Linked DNA regions of Homo sapiens. The protein of the gene in region 1 purifies or fractionates together with the protein of each later gene. This does not show direct contact. Each region holds a gene or a part of one and is shown in the gene's direction. Other genes may lie near its edges.

The links.
Region 2: the proteins of SETD7 (region 1) and TAF1A purify together in Homo sapiens (co-immunoprecipitation; one large-scale study listed by IntAct). This does not show direct contact.
Region 3: the proteins of SETD7 (region 1) and TPST1 purify together in Homo sapiens (co-immunoprecipitation; one large-scale study listed by IntAct). This does not show direct contact.
Region 4: the proteins of SETD7 (region 1) and OAS1 purify together in Homo sapiens (co-immunoprecipitation; one large-scale study listed by IntAct). This does not show direct contact.

The regions. Positions count from the first base shown.
Region 1 is NC_000004.12:139,531,990-139,536,407, reverse strand, and holds part of SETD7 (histone-lysine N-methyltransferase SETD7), read left to right. Parts: intron 1-3,041; coding exon 3,042-3,243; coding exon of another isoform or gene 3,244-3,279; exon of another isoform or gene 3,280-3,843; intron 3,844-4,418. UniProt on the Homo sapiens protein: Histone methyltransferase that specifically monomethylates 'Lys-4' of histone H3. H3 'Lys-4' methylation represents a specific tag for epigenetic transcriptional activation.
Region 2 is NC_000001.11:222,579,499-222,583,916, reverse strand, and holds part of TAF1A (TATA box-binding protein-associated factor RNA polymerase I subunit A), read left to right. Parts: intron 1-4,026; exon of another isoform or gene 4,027-4,044; coding exon 4,045-4,158; intron 4,159-4,418. UniProt on the Homo sapiens protein: Component of the transcription factor SL1/TIF-IB complex, which is involved in the assembly of the PIC (pre-initiation complex) during RNA polymerase I-dependent transcription.
Region 3 is NC_000007.14:66,355,119-66,358,841, forward strand, and holds part of TPST1 (protein-tyrosine sulfotransferase 1), read left to right. Parts: intron 1-1,706; coding exon 1,707-1,724; 3' UTR 1,725-1,753; intron 1,754-3,680; exon of another isoform or gene 3,681-3,723. UniProt on the Homo sapiens protein: Catalyzes the O-sulfation of tyrosine residues within acidic motifs of polypeptides, using 3'-phosphoadenylyl sulfate (PAPS) as cosubstrate.
Region 4 is NC_000012.12:112,916,685-112,921,044, forward strand, and holds the end of OAS1 (2'-5'-oligoadenylate synthase 1), read left to right. Parts: coding exon 1-54; intron 55-862; coding exon 863-1,016; coding exon of another isoform or gene 1,017-1,073; exon of another isoform or gene 1,074-1,912; coding exon of another isoform or gene 1,913-2,029; exon of another isoform or gene 2,030-2,704; coding exon 2,705-2,869; coding exon of another isoform or gene 2,870-3,009; 3' UTR 3,010-3,219; downstream 3,220-4,360.

The DNA.
Region 1 (4,418 bases):
AAATGCCAGAGATTTCAGAGTATTCATTATTAGTCCATGATTATTTTTGTTTTCAATGAAGAAAAAAGAAAAGAAAAAAAATCATAACTTTTTTTCCCCCGGCTGGCCTTAAGGATTTTAAAAGTTTGCTCCCATATGTATTATGGAAAGCAAGGAAAAATATAGTGTGGAAGCTAAGCTAAATAAAGGTCAGTGAGTAAACTTTCGATATGAGCAGAGCTTTTTAGAGCAGGGATTAGCAAACTTTTTCTGTATGTGGTGAGAGTAAAATCGAGGCTCCGTGGGCCACATACGGTCTCTGCTGCAGCAATTCAACACTGCTGTTGTAGTATGAAAGCAGCCATAGATGATGTAGAAAGGAACATGCATGGCTTTGTTCCAGTAAAACTTTATTTACAAAAGCAGTCAGCAGGCCATAGTTTGCCAGCCTCCTCTGGAAAGAACAGTTAGAGAGAAAGGTAGTGCCTTGAATGCCAGTCTAAGAAACGTATATTTTATTTCCTCAATGACAGAGGATTTTAAAAAATCACTTTTATCACCCTGGAGAACCCAGTTTATGTGTGTAATATGCCCTCTTTTGTCATCAGATTTCATCTAACTTACTATTAAAAGTTGCCAAGAAAGCTAAGCTGTGGCCTCAAGCAGATGGCTGAAAAAATAACGCAGTAAGATTTGCTTTCCAATGCCTTAAGAGTTTGCATTTGTGTACTTTGAGTCAGTTGGGCTAAGAGGGAAATAGCAGTTTGTTCTTCGTACTCTGATAGATGGGATGATGGGCTCCATGGGTAAGGGAGGTTAGGACAAGCCACTGAATACAGTTGGGGGAAATGTCTGCAAGTCCATATTATTTTTTGTCTGATTTGCAAGACCTGTTTCTTGTAGATTTGATCATAACCCTGAGAAATATTGGCAGACTAGTCTGTCAGGGAGTAATATTCTACCCAAACTCACACAGGAACATTTTGAATGCTGCTGAGAGTCCAAAGTCAATAGGGTTGCCAGGATGAGCAAATAAAAATCTAGTTAAATCCAGGACACCCAGTTAAATTGGAATTTGCTCAACAAAAAAAGTAAGTATAATTATATCCCATTCACTATTTGGGACATTCATAAACTAAAAAATTATTTGTTGTTTATCTGAAATTCAAACTTAGCTGGGAATCCTGTATTATACCTGGCAATCCTAAAAATGAAGATAAATGAATAGTTTCTTGCACTACATAAATTACATCATTATGTCACTTGATTAGTACCCTTCACCAATGATTTTTTTTTTAATTGTGGGAGTCTAATGACAGTTGAATCTCATTACTTCCAACCTCACTGTTTTAGAATTTTGATTATTTATGCAAGAGCTATGCTAAAGTGCACTTTATTCTCTTCATGAATTTAGGAAGCCTATTTGTCATTGATAGTACAAATAAAACTGAAAGAAAACTATTTATCTCCTTGGGATACTACAAATAGTATAATTACCTTTTAACCAGAAGCTATCATTATTTAGAATCTGCTTTTCATTTAATAATTATAGATCATTCACAGTTGTTCATTGAAATAAGTCAAGACTTTACCAGACAGAGTCAGGTGCAGCCACCTAAGTCCTGATGGCCCGCTTTGCGTCCCATCTGCTCCAGTTCACAGTGTGTCTTGCCAGTCTCTCCTATACCATTGTGTTTGTTTTGTTCCTTATCCGCTCTAGAGCCTCACACAATGCTTGCTACTGAGAAGGCACACTGTAAATGTTGACTAGTTGTGGCTGGGAGGCCGAGTTGGGTGGATCCCTTGAGCCCAGGAGTTCGAGACCAGCATACGTAACATGACAAAACCTCATCTCTACAAAAAAAAACAAAAATTAACCCGGTGTGGTGACACATACCTGTGGTCCCAGCTACTTGGGAGGCTGAGGTGGGAGGATGGCTTGAGCCCCAGGAGGTCGAGGCTGCAGTGAGCCATGATCATGCCACTGCACTCCAGCCTGGGCAATAGAGCAAGATCCTCTCTCGAAAAAAAAAATTACTAGTTGAATTAATGAATAAATACTCTCTGCCTATGTTAAAATAATCAAGCTGTCTTTGTTTCAAAATTTTCTTACATTTTAAATTTTAAAAATAATTTGAGTTGGTCTTTCCCTATTCCAAATTTTAGTACTTAAAGGGAATTTTGGGTGTTTCATTGCATAGGGCCTTTCAGAGGATAACAATGAAAACATGTTCCTGAACTTGCAAATATATATTACAAGGAGAGAGATGGAGAAGTGCTGGTAAAATCACGTGAGCATCCCTGTGAGCTTTCTTCTGGTATAGGACCGTGGGTCTCAAACTATCAGGATGCTAATGATATCAGCAGGGTGGAGCATTCAGTCTTCCTTACTTGCCCCTACTGGCCATGATCATGGATGTATGTATATACATAGATATACATACATACATACATACATACATAGATATATAGATATACTTAAATAAATCCCCATATGTCTTCCAAGGAGATGGAAGGGATTTCATTTGACTGGATACCAATTACGGCTATTAATGATAAATAATACATTAGTGACTTGAAACAAATGTGTAGACATTCACACACTTTAAGCCACATTTCTATCATTAGAGATTACTATATACAAGCCATCTGAAAGACCCTTGAGAACTACCAGTGAATTCTGGAGCACTCTTGAGGGAAATTAGACATGAATGGTTTGCTTGTGGAACAGGTAACACCAGAATTTCTATTGCCTGAAAACATACTCAAGTGAACTTGTTCTCAGTTTCCATCAGTAGCTTTTTTCTTCTCTATTTTCTCCAGCAGAGTAAAAGGATTCCCAGGAACCATGAGATTGGGTATTAAATCTCCGTCTTTCTTCTCAGTCTTACCCACGTCCATGAAGCACCTTTTCCTAGCAGTCGATGATAATTTAGGAGGCTGCGCTGAATCCATGTCAGGGCTGACACAGCTGGGCATGCAGTTCCTTGGATATGATCCTTTCTTCTAAGAGAGTCAAGTCATGGTCTGACTATTCCTTTTTGTTTTTCCTTTCCTCACAGCACCCTGGAGGGGTATTATGTGGATGATGCCTTGCAGGGCCAGGGAGTTTACACTTACGAAGATGGGGGAGTTCTCCAGGGCACGTATGTAGACGGAGAGCTGAACGGTCCAGCCCAGGAATATGACACAGATGGGAGACTGATCTTCAAGGGGCAGTATAAAGATAACATTCGTCATGGAGTGTGCTGGATATATTACCCAGTAAGCCGTGTGACTGTTCACTCTGCTGGAAAGTAACATACTGTGACTCTTCACAATGAAGAGTAAAATGTATTCTGTGTTAGAACTTGGGAGCTGTGAAACCTGAGAGTCACCACAGCTGACACCAAGAGTTTATGAGGCATGCCCTCTCACTGTTACTCACTATTGGCTTAGATTGTTGGCCCTTGAATCCGTTATTAATTATTTTTCAGCGTTGTTTTGGAAAGGAGTAATTAATCATGATTAAAACAAATTGAGACAAATTGGTTTTATTGTATCACTAATAAAGGCAAAATATATTGCTTTTAATTCTTTTGGCACATAGAGGGAGATAGTGGAAATTTTCATTGTTGCTATTAGTTTTATTTCCTGTTTCTCATATGTAAAAACCAGTCCAGCAATTTTTAATTTGGGAGAGCTTACTGCACTGTTGTTACTTGATTCTACAATTCCACTAACTGCTTTTTAAGGTATTTTATGGTTTATATTGTTTAAATTAAGGTGATTAAAATTAACTTACCTTTGAGTATTTGATAGCATTTTATGATATTTCTGGAGTCTATTAAAGTAAAAAGATATGGCAGAACCCATGGTTGGAAATTAATGCTCTAATTTTTGTTTGCATTTCAAATGTCCCATCTGTTGTTACTGAATTTCCAGAAAATGTTACAGAAAATACACCTTAGAAAACACTTTATCTTTATTTTATTTTATTTTTTATTTATTGAGACAGGGTCTTGTTCTGTTGCCCAGGCTGGAGTGCAGTGGCACGATCTTGGCTCACTACAACCTCCATCTCCCAGACTCAAGCCATCTTCCCACCTCAGCCTCCTTAGTAGCTGGGATTACAGGCCTATGTCATCACATCTGGCTAATATTTTTGTGTTTTCTTTTTTGAGACAGGGTTTCTCTAAAACCTAGTCTCGAACTCCTGGGCTCAAGCAATCCACCTGCCTTGGCCTCCTGAAATGCTGAAATTACAGGCATGAGCCATTGCACCTGGCTAGAAAATATTTTGCTTAATACTTTATTTTGTTCATAACTTAAGTCAAAATACTCTTTTTTTGTTTTGAGACAGAGTCTTGCTCTGTTGCCCAGGATGAGGTGCAGTGGTGCCATGTCGGCTTACTGCAACCTCTGCCTCGTGGGTTCAAGTGATTCTTCTGCCTCAGCCT
Region 2 (4,418 bases), on another chromosome or scaffold:
CTTCCTTTTCCCCCCTCTTTATGGATGTTTCCCATCATCATGTAAAAATTTTGTTATTCTATCTTTTTTTTTTTTTTTTGAGACGGAGTCTTGCTCTGTCGCCAGGCTGGAGTGAAGTAGCGCGATCTCGGCTCACTGCAATCTCTTACCTCCTGGGTTCAAGTGATTCCCCTGCCTCAGCCTCCTGAGTAGCTGGGACTACAGGCATGTACCACCACGCCCGGCTAATTTTTTGTATTTTGGTAGAGACGGGGTTTCACCAGGTTGGCCAGGACGGTCTCAATCTCTTGACCTCGTGATCCGCCTGCCTCGGCCTCCCAAAGTGCTGGGATTACAGGTGTGAGCCACCATGCCCAGCCTATTCTATCTTAAAATCATCTCTTGACCCAAACTTCCCCCATAGACTATACTTCATTGTTTTACTCTCTTTCAGCAAAACTTCTTGAAAGAGTTGTTCTCTTTTTCCAACTAGAGTGATCCTTTTTTTTTTCGTTTTATCAAGACGTTTTTTATACGCCATCACCCACTTAAATTGTACAATTCAATGTATTTTCATACATTTACAGAGTTGTGCAACCAACCATTACCACACTCTAAATTTAGAACCTTTTTTTTCTCCCATGAAACCAAAACCCTGTACCCACTTGCAGTCCTTCCCCATTCCTCCTCACAGCTGCCGGACACTGGCAGCCACTAATCTATTACTTTCTTTTTCTTTTTTTGTTTTCTTTTGAAACGGAGTCTTGCTCTGTTGCCCAGGCTGGAGTGCAGTGGCATGATCTCTGCTCACTGCAACCTCCAGCTCCTGTGTTCAAGTGATTCTTGTACCTCAGCCTCTTGGGTGGCTGGGATTGCAGGCATGCACCACCACACCTATCTAGTTTTTTGTATTTTTAGTGGAGACTGGGTTTCACTCTGTTGGCCAGGCAGGTCTTGAACTCCTGGCCTCAAGTGATCTGTCCACCTCGGCCTCCCCAAAGTGCTGGTATTGCAAGCGTGAGCCACTATGGCCAGCCTAATCTATTTTCTATTCTGGACATTTCATATAAGTGGTTTTGTACAATATGTGGCCTTTTGTAAATGATTTCTTTCACTTGGCATAATGTTTTCATGGTTTATCCATGTTGTAGCATGTATAAGTACTTCATTACTTTTATTGCCAAATAATCTGTCATATGGAAATACCATGTTTTATTTGTCCATTTATCAGTTGTTAGACACTTAGGTTGTTTTTGCTTTTCGGTTATTGGAAATAATGCTTCTGCGAACATTTGTGTACAGGTTTTTGTGTGGACGTTTGTTTTAATTTCTCCTGGGTCTACACCTGGGAGTGGAATTGCTGGTCATATGGTAACACTATGTTTAGCCTCTTGAGGAACTGCCAGACTGTTTTCCAAAGTGGCCATACCATTTATATTCTCACCAGCAATATCTGAGGCTTCTAATTTCTCTAATCCTTGCCAATATTTTGTTATTGTCCTGTCTTACTGATAATAGTCATCCTTGTGGTTGTGAAGTGGCATCATCCTGGTTATGATTTGCATTTCTCTAATGACTAATGATTCAGAGTGAGCTTTTTAAAACATATCAGATCATGTCACTCCTCTGCTGAAAACACTGTAATAGCTTTCCATTTCATTCAGTAAAAGCCAAAGTCATAATTGCCTATAAATTCCTATGTGATGTGCTCACTTCCTTTCCTTGTTTGACCTCTCTGACTTCATCTCCTGAAACAGGTGGAGCATTCCGAATTCAAAAATGTGAAAACCAGAATGCTTCAAAGCTTTTTCATTACTGACATGAGATAGTGACACCTTTGCTTTCTAATGGTTCAATGTATACAAATTTTGTTTCATGCACAAAATTTTAAGAATATTATATAAAATTACCTTCAGGCTATATGTATAGGTGTATATGAAACATAAGTGAATTTCATGTTTAGCCTTTGGTCCTATCCCCAGTCTCATTATGTATATACAAATATTTAAAAAGCGGAAACAATTTCAAGTCTGAAACATTTCTGGTCCCAACGATTTCAGATAAGGGATACTCAACCTGTATTATCCTGCTTGTTTTTTCTTTTCCATCCTCACTGGTCTCCTTGTTCTTACTTGAATGGGCCAGGCATATTCCTGACTGATTGCCTTTGCCTTAACCAGTTCTTGGAAAGCTCTTTCTTCAGCTATCACTGCAGCTACCCTCCTTCAAGGCCCCTTTTCATTGAGGCCTACTTTGACTATTTAAAATTGCAATTGCCTTACTCCAACTGCAACCTGCACTTTCTGAATGGCACTCCTGATCTCCTTGTCCTGCTGCATTCTTTTCCTCTAACAGTTGACAATTTAATTATATTTCTTGGTTATTGTTTGTCTCTCTACATAGAATGTAAATTTCACAGGGCAGGGTTAAAACAGTGCCTGGCATATACTGCTAAATTTCTTCAGTAAAAGACAGTTTACCCACAAATAACTTGACATGAGTGTCTCATAGGTTTTACTAACACAGTCACCATTGCATCAATTAGTTATCTTCTAGAGCAAAAAAAATAAAAAAGAGAAGCTGAAAAAAAAGTTTAACCATTCATTGAAAATTTAATTTATGGACTTAAGTTACATACTCCTGTAAAACATTGAACATGTTACAGCCTCTTGTTGTCCAGATTTTGTTTTGTAAAATGAAGGAATTGGATCAGTGGTTTTTGAGCACTTCTTTGGCTCTCTTTGGATCACCTAGGGCTTTCATTCAAAGTATAAATTCCTTTACTCCACCCCTGTCTATTGAGTCAGAGTATCTTTTATTTGTATTTTTTTATTTTTTGAGATGGAGTCTCACTCACTTTGTCACCCAGGCTGGAGTGCAGTGGCACGATCTTGGCTCGCTGCAAGCTCCGCCTCCCGCCACGACGCCTGGCTAATTTTTTGTATTTTTAGTAGAGACGGGGTTTCACCGTGTTAGCCAGGATGGTCTCACTCTCCTGACCTCGTGATCCACCCGCCTCGGCCTCCCAAAATCCTGGGATTACAGGTGTGAGCCACCGCGCCTGGCCCAGAATACCTATTTTTAACTGGTGTCCCATGTAATTACTGTGTACACTGGTGGTGAGAATAGCTATCATAATCTCAAAGTTTTCTTTTTTTTTTTTTTCCTGCTTTTCTTCCCCCCCTGCATTTACCCATCCCTGGTGGTAGGTGATCCAAGACCCAGGTTTTCTTTAAGCTCCCAAATACTACAGTGTGATATTCTACAAATGAAATCTTGATATCTCTGAGTTGGGAAGATGAGGATCCTTATATCAAATGATAATATGTGTATCATATATAACTATAGCAGTGATAGTGTGTGTATCCACATATAACCAATATGTATGTTCATAGAAATAATTGATTTACAGTTCAGTTTAATTTACTTTGAAGTTGGTATTATTGATTACTTTAAATTGAGGTTAGCGAAATAGAGATTTGCTCTCATGAAAAAAGAGCTCCAAGTTCTGCCGCCAAAGTTTTGGTGATCTGAGGATAAAATATTTTTTTATTAAGATTTGTCCATAGCTAATCAAAATTCTTAAATTGGCATTCTAAATATAGAATAAATGTAGTCAATAGTTGTAGAATTTGATGGGCTCTCAGGAAATGTGTAGTTTGTTGCCCTCATTTTGCAGATGATGAAGAAGAGGCTGAGACCAATGAAGAAGCCAATATTATTAGAACCCAAATTTTCTGACTTTAATATTCTTCCTTCCATACCAATTAAACATTTTATATTAAATATGTATCTTAACTGTCTACTTTCTTTAAACTACTAAATTAATAATGATGCTATTATACTATCTGATATTTTAATAGAAATTTGAAAGGTTAAAACTATTCTATCACATAAGGAAGTAGTATTAATTTTACATGGCAAAGTAGAGTAAAATGTTGACGGTAGTGGTCTCTGGAAAAGGAATCACAGGTTATTAATGTTGTAATCAGGAAAACAATATCTTAGACAGAAATTGGTTAAGGCAAAAATTTTACATTTTGGCAGTAATTTCTGCTTTGACAGATTATTTGGAAGCTCGGAAGTGAAATTCTATTTTATCATCCCAAAAGCAACATGGAGAGTTTCAATACTTTTGCTAACCGGATGAAAAATATTGGCGTCATGAATTATTTAAAGGTGAGAATATGGGCTTTGTGAATTTACACTTGCAGTATTCTTTTTTTTTTCTAATTGCTTGTGTCAGTGATAAGGTAGTTAACCTAAAAAATGTGGGACAAGGATAAGACATTCTGGATAAATAAGAGAAACTGAAAGAAAAGAGCGTTATGAGAACCATTTACTTCTTGATTTTCAGGCGCCTCCTGTGTTCTCTGACTAAAAATTCCTTTTCTTTGTATATTTCTTCTGGCTGCCAAAACCAGTTATTCAGAGATTGC
Region 3 (3,723 bases), on another chromosome or scaffold:
TGTAATAAAAATCATGAGAGTAAAATAGTGAGCCTAAGTAGGAGAATATATTTGAAACAAAGGACTTATCTGGAGCCGAGTGCAGTGACTCACACCTGTAATCCCAGCACTTTGGGAGGCCAAGGCGGCTGGATCACGAGGGCAGGAGTTTTAGACCAGCCTGGCCAACATAGTGAAACCCCATCTCTACTAAAAATACAAAAAAAAAAATTAGCTGGGCGTGTTGGGCACCTGTAATCCCAGCTACTTGGGAGGGTGAGGCAGGACAATCGCTTGAACTCAGGAGGCAGAGGTTGAAGTGAGCTGAGAACGTGCCACTGCACTCCAGCCTGGGAAAGATTGCGAGACTCCCTCTCAAAAAAAAAAACAAAAAACAAACAAACAAAAAACTCATCTGTGGAATATAGATCATCATCGTAAGGGAATTTTTTTTTAAATTGGGCAAAAAGCCTGGACAACATAGCAAGACCCTATCTCTATCAAAAAATTAGCTGGGCAGGGCCAGGCGTGGTGGCTCCCACCTGTAATCCCAGCACTTTGGGAGGCTGAGGCGGGCAGATCACTTGAGATTAGGAGTTCAAGACCAGCCTGGCAAACATGGCAAAACTCCATCTCTAAAAACAAGTACCAAAAAAAATTAGCTGGGTGTGGTGGCACACACCTATAATCCCAGCTGCTCCTGAGGCTGAGGCAGGAGAATTGCTTGAACTCAGGAGGCAGAGGTTGCAGTGAACCGAGATTGCGCCACTGCATTCCAACCTGGGTGACAGAGCAAGACTCCATCAAAAAAAAAAAAAAAAAAAAAAAGGCTGAGCGTGGTGGCATACTTGGGAAGCTGAGGCAGGATGATCTGTTAAGCCCAGACAGCTGTGATTGTGCCACTGCACTACAGCCTGGGTTACAGAGGGAAACCTTGTCTATTAAAAAAAGAAACAATCATGCAGAAGTGTGCACACAGAGACACACACACGTAGAAAAGGGCCCATAAGGTCTTCAGTTTAACTTCTAATGAAAATCAGCAGAAACTCATAGAACCTTCAGATTGAATAATTAGCTAGAATGGTTCATAAAACTCGGTAAAGTGTAGTACTTAACAATGACAGTTTTATAAAGGATGCAGATCAGGACCAGCCATAAGATAGAAGTGGGCCCAGGAGGGTCCTGAATGCAGAGCTTCTGTGCCTCCTCCCTATGAAAGCAGGGCACGTCACCCTCCCGGCACACCCATGTGTTCACCAACCGGGAAGTGCCACTGAACTTCCACACCCAGCATTTTTATTGGGGTTTATTTATGCAGGCAAGATTGATCAAATCGTTGGTCATGTGTTAGAACTCAATCTCCAGCCAACCTCCCCTCCCCAGAGTTGACGTGGGCTCCAAGCCCCAGCCCCTGATCCCATGGTTGGTCTTTGTGGTGAGCAGCCCCATCCTGAATCATCTCATAACATAAATCCAGATGTGATCCAAGGGCATCAGAAATAACAAAGACACTCTTGTTACCCAGGAAATTCCAAGGATTCGGCATTTCCCTCCCAGGAACCAGGGGGAAAGGCCAGTCAGATTCTTGAGCATACCACAGTAGTGCACTGAGTTCATCTGAAAGTGAACAGAGCCTGCGGGCCACCCCTCATGTTTCAGTGGGGACGGTCACTTCTCATGCTGACCAACTTCAAGGACATTAAAACATCTTTTCTTTCCTTCAACAGACTGAGCAAGTGGAGTAGCAGAACCAGGAGCCTCTTCCATACATGAGGTGAGGGTTGGGGGACATTGCCAGGTCTTTCTGTTTCCCACTCGGGCTCTTGCAGGGGGCTGGGTGGCCAAGGTGGAGAGCACAGCTCTGGAGTCCGTCTGCCAGGGTTGGAATCCTGCCTCTTCACTTTCTGTGTGGAAGCAAGCACATTACTTCACCTCTCTGTGTCTTCATTTATTCATCTATGAAATGAGGATAATATTAACAAGAGCATGGTGGTGAGAATTAATCATCATCCAAGAGCCTGGCTCATAATAAGCGCACAATAGTATTGTTATTTTCATTATGAACCATGAAATATTTCAGCTGAAAGGGACCTGGAGGCCATCAAGCCCAACTCCCTGTTTACTGATAAGGAAGCTGGTCCCAGAGGGAGCAGGTCGTTTGTCAGGACCATAGTCCATAGGCAAGGAAACCCAGAACTCAAGAGTGGCTGTTTACTTCTGGTTACCTGTTCAGCCAGGGCCCCAGCCACCCATCCCCACCTCCAGTGGCTTTCTTCGTGTGCTGGACTTGCAGATGTTTTTGCCCTACTGCAATTTTTGTTTGTTTGTTTGTTTCTTGGTTGGTTTTTCAAGTTTGCCCTTGCTTGTTTTAATGTATTATGGATGGCTTATGTGAGTAACCTATATTGTCTCATTGGACTAAGTGCTACATTGTAGACAAGGCCAGCCTTGCCTTCTCAGCCCTTTTTCTATCTGAGTATGTGGCCCTCATCAGGCACATGTCCAGGGACACCAGCTCATGAGTGGCAAAGCTGGTTTCTCAGCCCAGATCTCCAGGTGCAGCTGCTCAGAGTTCATACCCTTGTCCCAGACTTTCAGTCTCTGCTTATCCACCCAAACTTTCTTAAGATCAGTTTTGCTCCAAATGATGTGGCAAAGCCTTTGATCAGTTGTAACTTGAACAGCCTTTTCAAAAAATCTGATATTGGCTGGGCATGGTGGCTCATGCCTGTAATCCCAGCACTTTGGGAGGCCAAGGTGGGCAGATCACAAGGTCAGGAGTTCGAGACCAGCCTGGCCAACATAGTGAAACCTCGTCTCTACTAAAAATACAAAAATTAGCTGGGTGTGGTGGCAGGGACCTGTAATCCCAGCTACTTGGGAGGCTGAGGCAGGAGAATCACTTGAACCCAAGAGGTGGATGTTACAGTAAGCCGAAATCGTGCCATTGCACTCCAGCCTGGGTGACAAGAGAGAGACTTCGTCTCAAAAAAAAAAAATTGGCTGGGCGTGGTGGTGGGCACTTATAGTCCCAGCTACTCGGGAGGCTGAAGGAAGAGAATTGCTTGAAGCCAGGAGGCAGAGAGGTTGCAGTGAGCCGAGATTGCAGCACTGCACTCTAGCCTGGGTGACAGAGCGAGACTTCGTCTCAAAAATAAATAAATAAATAAATAAAAATAAAATCTGATATTGATAGTGATTTTTTCTCATAGTTTACTTGCTGACCTTTGTTTTTTTTTTTTATATAATGTTTTTATTTTTACTTTATATAATGATGTATTGTGCATACTCCATACCAGGCATAAAATACCAAGGATTTTATTTGCATATATATAAGATGATATATATATAACAGATACGCTAAATTATATATACATCTATATATAAAATTGTATTCAGTTCTCAAACCACTCTGGCAAGCTGGTAGTATTCCTGTTTTGCTAGTGAGAAAACAGGTTGAATGTGACTTGCGGTGCGTTGATGGATTATAGACATAAGAAGCACATGGACGCTGGTCCGTCATGTCAAAATCCCAGATGGCAGCAAGCTGCTAATATTGACAGGTTCTAGGATTCAGGTTTCCTTTTTGCTGAGGAGCAAATGCTGAATGTTAGTCTTATGCCCTGTGGGTCTGCATATTTAACAGCAGTTATCAGGCCTTGGCTAATTTTGTTTATACAAAATGCTTTCAAACTTCATAGGTAATCTCCCTGCCCGCCCCACCAAACACACACAAGGCCTCAT
Region 4 (4,360 bases), on another chromosome or scaffold:
CTTTAAAAACCCCATTATTGAAAAGTACCTGAGAAGGCAGCTCACGAAACCCAGGTATGCTATCCCCACATGGCTTAGCTCCCCTATGTAAATGAACACCTGGATACAGGTACAGTGCCTTGGAAATGGAGGAGGTGGGAGGGCTCCCCACTTAGTGAGAATCTCCTGTTGCCCATCATTGTACTGGGCATTTTACTACTGCCATCTGTTTTAAACACCTACCTCCAACCCTGTGAGGCAGGCACTATGCCAATTATTTTACAGGTGAGTAAACTGAGGTTCTGAGAGGTAAGGAGCTTGTCCAACCCTTAACAGAAAATGAGTAAAATAGCTGCAGTTTGAACTGAAATAAGAACAGCAGCAACAACAATGATAGTAATTGCTCCCAGGTATTGAAAGCTTGTTGTAAGACTAACACATGCTAATATAATAGTAAAAATTATTAGCAATATTACTGATATGTATGTTATGTTCTAGTCGCTGTGCTGAGCATTTCATATAACTGGGCTTTTTCTATCCTCACAGCATAGCCTTTGAGATAGGTATGTGGAACTATTCCCATTTTACAGATAAGAATCCTGAGGCTTAGAGAGTTCAAGTGACCTACCCAAGGGCACATCACTGATAAAGGGCAGAGGTGGGATTCAAACCCACATCTGTCAGGTGCAAGTGCAAGGCTCCTTCTCCTCATGCTCACTGCCTGCTGGGGAATAGGGCACTGGGGACATACCCCAGGGAGCCCTTCCTCATGTTCTGAGTCCCAGTTCATCCCATGCTGCTATTTTGCTCTCCCAGGAGCATCTGGACTCCCTAGACAGAGCCCCAGCTTCTCACCTGTCCCTCTCTAAATGCTGCTCTGCAGGCCTGTGATCCTGGACCCGGCGGACCCTACAGGAAACTTGGGTGGTGGAGACCCAAAGGGTTGGAGGCAGCTGGCACAAGAGGCTGAGGCCTGGCTGAATTACCCATGCTTTAAGAATTGGGATGGGTCCCCAGTGAGCTCCTGGATTCTGCTGGTGAGACCTCCTGCTTCCTCCCTGCCATTCATCCCTGCCCCTCTCCATGAAGCTTGAGACATATAGCTGGAGACCATTCTTTCCAAAGAACTTACCTCTTGCCAAAGGCCATTTATATTCATATAGTGACAGGCTGTGCTCCATATTTTACAGTCATTTTGGTCACAATCGAGGGTTTCTGGAATTTTCACATCCCTTGTCCAGAATTCATTCCCCTAAGAGTAATAATAAATAATCTCTAACACCATTTATTGACTGTCTGCTTCGGGCTCAGGTTCTGTCCTAAGCCCTTTAATATGCACTCTCTCATTAAATAGTCACAACAATCCCATGAGGCATTTTTAAAAATTTTTTATTATTTTAGATTCAGAGGGCACATGTGCCATTTGTTACACAGCTATATTGTGTAATGGTGGGGTTTGGGCCTCTATTGATCCTGTCGCCCAAATAGTGAACAGAGTACCCAAAAAGAATTTTTTCAACCTTTGCCTTTCTCCCTTCCTCCTCCCTGTTGGAGTCCCTAGTGTCTATTGTTCCCATCTTTAGCAGATGTTAAGTATTTGATTTTCTGTTTCTGGGTTAATTCACTTCGGATAATGGCCTCCAGCTGCAACCATGATTTCATTCTTTCTTATGGCTGCATAATACTCCATGGTGTAGATATACCACACTTTCTTTATCCAGTTCACACTGATGGGCACTTAAGTTGATTCCATGACTTTGCTATTGTGAATCGTACTGCGATAAACATACGAGTGCCGGTGTCTTTTGATAGAATGATTTCTTTACCTTTGGGTAGATACCGAGTAGTGGGATTGCTGGGTTGAATGGACATTCTACTTTTAGTTATTTGAAAAGTCCCATGAGGCATGTTTTCTATCATTCCCATCTTACAGATGAGACAAAGGCTCAGAGAGGTGAGGTCACTTGCTCAAGGACATCAGCTAACAAGTGGTGGAAATGGAATTCAAGCTCAGTGGACTCTAAAGCCAGTGCTCATGTCACTGTGCTAAACAGCCTGCCTTGTCACATCCCCACCTCTCATCTGACCAATGGGAGACTCTGAGCAGCTGAGTGACTTGGGTTGTCACACAGCTAAACAGGGGCAAAGGACCCAGTCTTGGATCTTTCCACCTCCAAGCAGGAATCTGTCTGATTCCAGGGGATTGATGATGTTGCAGATGGCTAGGAAGCAGACTCCAGGATGGAATTTAGTATGCAGGATGTTCTGGGGGAGAGCCACTGGAACCAGCACTCAGGGAAAGGGGGGAAGAAAGGATAGGAAGGAAGCATGAAAGAGAATAGGGAGAAGTGAACAGGGATGCAGAGCGAATGCCAGTTTCAGCCAACTCCAAGGACAGCCCTGGAGCTGGAATGGCCTTTAGAGCTGCCCCATGGTGACAGAGGTGGCCAGGCTTCTATACCCCTACGTGGATCACTCACTGTGCTTGGGCACCTTGGGAAAGGGCATGGCTTTGAGCAAAAGGCTCTCTGCAGCTGAGGCAACCCCTAAAAGGGCTGACGGCTGAAGTCTGTCTGCTGACCACTGTCCCAGCAGCTGGGGCTTGTTAGTCCTTCCTCAAAGGGGGATCCAGATGGCATGTCACAGTGTCTACCGTAAATGCTCACTGAATCCAGCTGCAATGCAGGAAGACTCCCTGATGTGATCATGTGTCTCACCCTTTCAGGCTGAAAGCAACAGTGCAGACGATGAGACCGACGATCCCAGGAGGTATCAGAAATATGGTTACATTGGAACACATGAGTACCCTCATTTCTCTCATAGACCCAGCACACTCCAGGCAGCATCCACCCCACAGGCAGAAGAGGACTGGACCTGCACCATCCTCTGAATGCCAGTGCATCTTGGGGGAAAGGGCTCCAGTGTTATCTGGACCAGTTCCTTCATTTTCAGGTGGGACTCTTGATCCAGAGAGGACAAAGCTCCTCAGTGAGCTGGTGTATAATCCAGGACAGAACCCAGGTCTCCTGACTCCTGGCCTTCTATGCCCTCTATCCTATCATAGATAACATTCTCCACAGCCTCACTTCATTCCACCTATTCTCTGAAAATATTCCCTGAGAGAGAACAGAGAGATTTAGATAAGAGAATGAAATTCCAGCCTTGACTTTCTTCTGTGCACCTGATGGGAGGGTAATGTCTAATGTATTATCAATAACAATAAAAATAAAGCAAATACCATTTATTGGGTGTTTATTAACTTCAAGGCACAGAGCCAAGAAGTACAGATGCATATCTAGGGGTATTGTGTGTGTATATACATTGATTCAACAAGAAATATTTATTGAGCACTTACTATGTGCCAAGCATAGCTCTGGGCACTGGGAATATAGCAATGCACAAAAGCAGACAGAAATCCCTGTCCTCATGACCCTGCAGAGCCAAGACTTCCAGAATTTTTTAAATAAAAAAATCCCTGTCCTCATGGAGTTGACATTTGTGCAAAACATCTTAATGTTAGATGGTTTTCCTATTACTAATAATTCTGAAATAAGCATCCTTGATTTATCCTTTCTCCATATCTCTGAGAAAAATTATAGAACCTCCCTGTGTGACACAGCAGCCACTAGCCACATGTATCAAATGCTTAAAATGTAGCTAGTCTAAATCTACATGTGCTGTGAGTGCAAGGTATATACTTGGTTTCAAAGACTTAGTACAAATGAAAAGAATGCCAAGTTCTTGCCAACTGATAATTTTTTTAATTGTGTGCTGAAATGACAATTTTTAAATATATTTGAGTTAAATCAAATGAACTTCATCTCTTTCTTTTCCCTTTTTAATTGTGGCTACTAGAAAATGTGAAATCATACATGTGGCTTGTGTTATATTATGTATTTCTATTGGACAGCTCTGTCCTCCAAGGTAAATCACTGGATTAAAGATTCGACTATACTGACTTACATTGCCACATTGTCACACTGTCCTTGGGACCAAGAATCAACATATCATTCATAAGACTCTAAAATATAAAACTCTCATAAATACTCACAAAAGAACCTAGCATGCTCTGATCACCTGAGTTGCTGGTCACTTTTGGTGGCTGGTAAGCAGCCTTTGGTCCGTCCAGATTATATTCTTCCATTTAGTCCCCCCACATCCCTGTGAGATGGGTTTTGTTGTTATTCTCATAATATTAAGTGGAATAACTTGAGGTTCTAAGAGGTTACAGTGCTTGCCCAGGGTCACCCAGCTGGTCAGGGGCAGAGTCTGAACTTGAACCCTAATCCTTCTCTCTCTAAAGCTCATGTTCTTAATCACTGTAGCATGGTCTTAATGTGTCCTCATTCATTGAAAGCTTATGTTTTCCTACTCTGGCGCC